Homo sapiens: one gene and its partner. The protein of the gene in region 2 interacts with the protein of the main gene of each other region in a pairwise test. Each region holds a gene or a part of one and is shown on either strand. Other genes may lie near its edges.

The links.
Region 1: the proteins of SMAD5 (region 2) and POU6F2 interact in binary tests that used the Homo sapiens proteins (3 or more experiments, as listed by UniProt).

What each region holds. Positions count from the first base shown.
Region 1 is NC_000007.14:39,337,909-39,341,565, forward strand, and holds part of POU6F2 (POU domain, class 6, transcription factor 2), read left to right. Parts: exon of another isoform or gene 1-1,212; intron 1,213-1,733; coding exon 1,734-2,107; intron 2,108-3,657. UniProt on the Homo sapiens protein: Probable transcription factor likely to be involved in early steps in the differentiation of amacrine and ganglion cells. Recognizes and binds to the DNA sequence 5'-ATGCAAAT-3'. Isoform 1 does not bind DNA.
Region 2 is NC_000005.10:136,149,838-136,153,494, reverse strand, and holds part of SMAD5 (mothers against decapentaplegic homolog 5), read right to left. Parts: intron 821-3,657; exon of another isoform or gene 737-820; intron 1-736. UniProt on the Homo sapiens protein: Transcriptional regulator that plays a role in various cellular processes including embryonic development, cell differentiation, angiogenesis and tissue homeostasis.

The DNA.
Region 1 (3,657 bases), on a different chromosome or scaffold from region 2:
GGGACCAAGGCTCATTAGTAGGTTAGGGTCTGCTGTACCTACCCGTCTGCCAACATCTATCTGCCAATATTCCCAGACTTTCCTGTTTCTAAATGCTGATTTAGATAAATGCTTTTCTAACCAAAATGAAGCAGTATGGTATTTAAGTCAACCATGGAAATAAGCATTAACATATGTGCCCCCACCTGAAAGACATCAGGTTAGGTTCGATTTGAATCAGGCAGGAGGCCAGATGCAATCAAGTCCCTGAAGTCTGGAACTCCACCAGAAGAAGAGATCAGGCTCCCCTGCCCCAGGATCCTCCAGACTGCAGAAGATCTAGGGAGGTCAGAATAGAGCAGGGCTCCCACATCTTTGATAAAATGTGATTTTGTAAACTAGAAGAAAGGGGGAAATGGCAAAAGCAGGCCTTTCTCTAAAAGGTCTAATAAACGGGATGATGCCGGGGTACTTTCCAGGCCTCCCTCATGCCATCTCTATCTCTACGATTACATCACAAGCCCCAGAACACCCTGGCTCTACACGCAAGGCAGGCCACACACTGGACTGCTTGCATAGACCTAGAGCAGTTCAGTGGCTCAGTGAGGACTTGCTATCCCAACTGGACCAAGTTGGAAGCCCTACATGGTATGTGAGATCACAGAATTGGTATTTGATACCCCTGGAAATGGTTGCATCGTCATTTCACCAATACAGCTACACTTTCCTCTAAGGCCTGTGGGTTTGACATTGATCCTTATATGTTTATTTGTTCATGGGCTTGTTAGAAAGCTTTTAGATTGAGATTTAGGCAAAAAAGAAAGTGAACTTGGTTTTTAGCCGTAAATTTCTCTAGACCATTCTTAGGTCAAACTAACCAGCTTCCTTCTGCAGAAATTGTTCAGTGCTACATGGGCATGTGAGAACAAATTTTGCGTGCTCAGTGCTAAGACACTTTCTCCCACCAACTCTACCTTTCTCATAACAAGATCTTAAAAGATGATTTCATTCCCTCAGTCCTTAGGTGCTGTCCTGTCCTCAGGTGCTGATGTCTAATCACCACACTGTTTGGTTCAGTCACCTGCTATCATCCCTCCAGTTTAGGGGTTCTGTCTCTTTAATCAGCAGGCAAAAAATTCAGACTCAGGCTTTTGACCCTGCAAAATGGAGAAGCATGTACTGCTTTTGAATTTTTAAAAAAAAAAAAAAACAGTTAGAAATTTGACACTAAGACATCTAAGCAACTGGGTGGAGATCTGAAGTAGCAAGTGAAAATGATACCATTAATGATATTGATGATGGATGTAAAGGCAATTGCAAACAATTGGTTTTTTGTTCTTAACTCCAGTCAAACACTTACCAAAACAACTAAACTGGTTGGACTTCAACAATCTAAATGAAATCTTGAAGCATGAATGTATTTCCCATGCAGTATGGAAAGGAAGAGAGAGAGAAAGTAGTTAAAAAACAATCTCCATTCCTACCACACACCTTTGGCTTGCATTGTTCACCACCTTTTAAAGTAATGCCTGATGTGTTATATGCTGGTCCTCCAGAAATTCTAAACTTTCCCCAGAAGTGACCTTTGTTCTCCCAGTGCCTCACAACACTCTTAAATACCAAAGAGCTTCAGGGGGCAAGGACAAGAATTTTCTAAAGGAAACCCTTCTCCACTTGCACTGGACAGGCTGTCAAGACCCAGCAAGACACTTTGTCATGTTATCTCACTCCACATTCGCTTTCTCTCCTTGTAGCTACCTCATCCCTGAACTCCCAGCTCCAGCAGCTCCAGCTCCAGCTCCAGCAGCAGCAGCAGCAGCAGCAGCAGCAGCCTCCCCCGTCAACCAACCAGCACCCGCAACCAGCCCCACAGGCGCCCTCGCAGTCCCAGCAGCAGCCGCTGCAGCCCACCCCACCCCAGCAGCCACCACCCGCCTCTCAGCAGCCGCCAGCTCCTACATCTCAGCTGCAACAGGCGCCTCAGCCCCAGCAGCACCAACCCCACTCCCACTCCCAGAACCAGAACCAACCATCTCCAACCCAGCAGAGCTCCAGCCCCCCGCAGAAACCTAGTCAGTCTCCAGGACATGGCCTGCCTTCACCGCTCACGCCACCCAATCCTCTACAGGTATGCTCCCCGTGCTTCCCGTCTGCCCCTAGGAGCACCAAGGACCTTTCCATGGGGTGGTGCCATCCCCAAAGGCAGAGGGACCACACAAAACTTAGCATCCAGTTCTGCAGCATCTAATTCAAATTGATCTCTTAGACATAGGGAAGAAGAAGCAACTAGAAGGCAACTGGGGATGCATGTAAACGAAACAAATAGAAGCCCATTTCTGTTGCCCTCCAAAGGATAAATGTTATCTGTTTCCTTCTGTGAGAGGCCAGCACTATAAGTGCATTTGGAGCCTGTAATAATTCCATTTTATGATACTTTTTGAAGGCAGCAAAGATAGCATCCAATTAAAATTATTACTAGCACAGTTTTGTAGCCCCATGGAGAACTGCATCTACTGTCCATGAGGCATGGTGGTTATTTCTCTATATTATGAATACAACAGTGTCTCACCTTAAGTACTTTGTGCTCTTTTGTTTCTATTTTTCTAAAGACTCTCTGGGGTTAGGAGGGCAAAGAAATTTAGCCCCAGTCTTATGTCCCAGATTCCAACCATTACTCCACAGACTAACAAGTACTCTAAATTCATGCCAAGAGCCTCAACCAATATGCATCTTTATAAAGGAATAAAACTTCTATAGGTTTACTTTATTACTGTGAGGCTGAGAGCTTCATAAATAGATATTTCAGGCTAACCATGAGAGCTCATCTATAACCTACCTATTGAGAAGGAATGGATAGGTGCATTCATATATATATATATATATATATGACTTTAAACTTCAGAAAACCATTTTTAACTTAGGTGTCTTTAAAATAAATTAGCTTCAAAACATAATGACTGTGATGTCATCATATCAGATCCAGAAATTAATAACTCAGCCAAGCCATCCATTCTTTGACTTGCACAATGACATTTTTCCCTGTGAGATTTCAGACAATCTCGTGTATTTGTAGTACTGTGACAAAGTTAAACAGAGTGAGCAGCCTGTGGACCTGTTTCAAGTGCCATCTCATCCCCTTGCCATAGTGGTGGGTATAAACCTCAGTCAGTCCGGCTCTCCCCAGCCTGAGAATGACAGTAGCGATGGTATCCTTGGCTCCTAAATAGAAAAGTATACAAAATAAAGACAGGTTGGTACACGGACAGAAAGGCAGGTGGATTAGAGACTTGGTATTTTAGAACTTAGTTTGTTGTCCCATAGCTTTGTCTCTTCCAATTTGGATTCTCAGTGGTGTGGCCCAAAGCATTCCTAGAAATGAACACATTTGGGAGAGATGAGTCATTGTGTTTTTCTGGGCTCTTGGGCCAGGGCTACTTTCAATTTGAACATTTTCATGAGTGGAGTTTCAAGATGTATTTATACAATTCTTACGATGGTGAGACAACGTAACACCTTTGACCTAGGACTAAAATGAACATGGTCCAAAAACGTCTTCATTGTCCACTTGACACCTACTGAAAGAGCAGGTGTCATCAAATTTACAGAAGGCATGATTACAGCAACCTTAATGTTGGCAGCATTTGGGATTCAACTTTATTATTCCAAAAAATTAATTTA
Region 2 (3,657 bases):
CAGAAAAGCATTACAAAGTAAACAAAAAATTGATAAATTTTCTCCAAAAGTTCTGTGACCACTCGATTCCTTCCCCATAATATGAACAAGTAAGACACTGGCAATGTCAAATGATAACCAGAGGCAAAACCAGGTTGCTCTACCTCCTATGTATTATCCAAAAATAGCTTCTGGACTCCCTTTGATTAGGCCACTAAACCCTAAAACACTCTTCTAAAATTTGATTCTGAAGTACTTTTCTTCACTGAAATCCATGTTACATGCTATGTCAATTTTGAACGTGATTGTGTCCTGATCTGAATAGAAGTCTTAAAAGAAATCCAGCTCTTCTCTAAGGTCATTATTCTCTTTAAATGTTTCCCAGACTGAGAAGGTTTGGACAAAAATCATGATACTACTGAAGTCACATTATTAGATGCAAATTGTATTCACGGTTGTATAAGATGTACCAAACCCTCAAATAAATCATTATAACTGCCAGTAAAATGGCAAGTATCTATTTGTAAAACTAAGTATGTTGAATAAATTTAAAGAGAATAAATTCATTTTAAAAGGGTCAGTTTCTAATTTTATAATTCCTATCGGCTTATTTTAAGTGATATTTTATATTGGTTAATGAGCTTGCTCCAGGTAAACCACTGTTCTGCACCATTAAGAAGCTCCTGATGATGACAGGTGGAAGTGACAGGCACTCCACCGATAGAAGCTGGTAAAAACCAGGCTCAGTGGCACACACCTGTAATCCCAGTTATTCGGGAGACTCACTTGAGCCCAGGAGTTCAATCACGTCCAGTCTGAGCAACATAGTGAGATCCCATTTCTAAATAAAGAATAAAAAGAATGTGTAAGATCTCCTGCAGATCGCTGCACAGCCAACCACAGACGATAAATACCTACTAAAGTAACAAGAATAACGTTTGGAAAAATGGTGTAACAAAAGATGCTTCCTTTCTTGTGCCTACAATTGCCAAAAGCTATAGCTTTGTCTTTGAAAAATTCTAGCATCAATATTATTCTGGACTGGGGTGCATCTTTCCAGAAAAGAATGTATGTGCTCAGCTAAAGCCCAGACAATAACATAAAGTAAATAAAGATAATGTAAACACAGAGTAAAGTAAAACTGACATACACTCAACAAATAATTATTGATTCTTTGTTACATCCCATGTATTGTGAATAGCCATGATGGGGCTTTTTAAAAAAAGTTATGCCAAGTAGGGTTTAATCTCAACAGTCAATAAACTGATTCATTCAAAATACACTTACTGAGAGCCTACTAAAGTACCAGATACAGTTCTGGATGCCGATCAACTACTGGCAGCTATCCAGCCTTCTATGCTGGAACCATGGTGGGGAAGGGTACAGGGAAGTAAAGATATCCTCCTTATGTATGGATATGCCTTGTGCCTTGTCTTGCCCAGCCCTATGTAGGATGATTTTTCCTAGGCAAACAAAACTGGCCACATTAAAATAGAGAGATATAACAAAGAGAATGAAAGCATAATTGTCACTAACAGGTCACAGAGTATAAAGTGTTATGTACTAAATGAACTGTAAGAAGGGCTGACCTCAGTTGCATCTACATCAAGGATGTATGATAAAATCCATGTGGGTCAGGAAGTAAAACCATGGTTTGGTTGTCTGAGATGAGATGGGAAATGTCAAAGGCAAAGGCACACAAACAAAAAAATATATATATAGGCAGACATGAACATAGCATTTCCTAGGCTAGATAAGAGACAGGCCTGGCTGACTGATTCATGAACACTAGAATATAATGGGGGGCTAGATAGGGTAGTGTACGTATGTGTGAGAGAGTATGTGTATGAGCAACAGAGAGACAGTTAAGGAAGAGGGAGGCAAAAAGACAGGAGCTTCAAGACCAGAATTCTGAATACAATATCATACATGATCAGGCCCTTGGCTTCTCCTTACTCATTTCTTAACCATTATCCTACCTAATTGCATTTAACCACACTTAACTTCTTTCCATTTCTCAAGTATTCTAAGGTTATTTCTATGTGAGGTCTTTGCATCTGATGTTCTCTCCCCTAAATTCTCTTCTCCCGTAACTTAACGCAGCATACTCACTCAAATTAATTCAGTTGTTCAAAGGTCACCTCCTGAAAGAGGAATTCCCTGACCACTTGATTGAAAATAGCATGACAGCCCATTCTCACAACATTCTCTATCCCCTGACCCTGTTCATTTTTTATAGCATTTACCCTAATCTGATATTACATTATCAACTTTGTTTATTTACTTTGTTTTCCCCAATGCAATGTTAGTATGCAGGTAGTCTCGTCTGCCCTCAAAACCACTGGATGCCCTGGACCTAGAATAGTGTCCATTTATCAAATAAATGAGTAAGAAAAACAATTTGTAAAAATATATATACCTTTCTAAGGATGTCTATATCAAACTTAAAACAAAAAAATTGTTATTTATAGATATCTATGATATCAGAGAATAAAAATATGCCTGGAAATGAAACACACCAGACTCAGTCTCCCAAGTTGATGGCATTATAGGCTTGAGCCACTGTGCCCACCAGATTCTGTTCTTTACTAGTATCACTTTTTCAAAGCCTATTAACTTTTCTGTAAAATAGAGATGATGGTTCCTAAGTCACAGAAATATTAAAGTACTAATGTCTATCTAACACAAGCTTTACAAACTCAACAGTACTATTCAAACATGAATTCTAATCATTAGCATTCAGAAAGAAGACGAACCAAGACTTAAGAGACTGGCTAGATCTAGTCCTAATCTAATCTTGCCCATTACTCTTCCACTATACACACCTTCTGATCCAATCCAAATCCCTGCCCCTCTGCCCATCTGTGTCTTCCAAGAGAAATCTTAGTCATTCTTAATGATGAGCTCCAATCTATCCCCTTTTGTGAAGACTTCCTTTACCACCCAATGCTGAAGAGGCTATGGTCACTGAATATTTATAATAAAAACTAATTAATAAGTCATAAATAATATCATAACTTCCCAAATACAGTACAAAATCCTTCTAAGAAGTAGTCTTCAGCACCTGGACCATTGCATGTGCCATACCACACACTATGATACTTAATGAATGGTCACTGATTTTTCTACTAACTGTACCTTGAAATTAAGAGATAATTTCAAATTTTAAACCCACGTTGACTAAGATAATGATAAAATGAGAATTCTACCCACAGAATTAAAAACATTCAGAAGGCAGCTTTGTCAGTAGAAATGGTGGTAAACTCCACTGGGAAAAGGTCATGACTGGAGATACAGGTTTAGCCAGGTAAAGATGAGAAACAGATTTAAGATTTTGCACAAAGAGCTAAAAAAAAAAAGTTTGCAACAGAGTGAAAAGAACAGTAAGTAAACACCTAAATATTACGAAACATTCACTGTTAGGAAAGAGTTTCCTGATAGTGAGTTACTGATAATGCACTATTAAAAAGACAGAACTAGATACAATGGTACTGCAGAAGATTAAACATATGGGAGAGTTTAAAGAGAATGTAAACAAAGAAAAGGCCAGTGACTTTGGTGAATGGGTATGCCACTAAACTTCAAGAGATTGGTTTCAAAAAGAACAATAGGTGTCAGTTTTAAAAACCTAGAACTCTTACTAGTAAAACTAGCACAGGGAGAGGAGCAAATCTCACA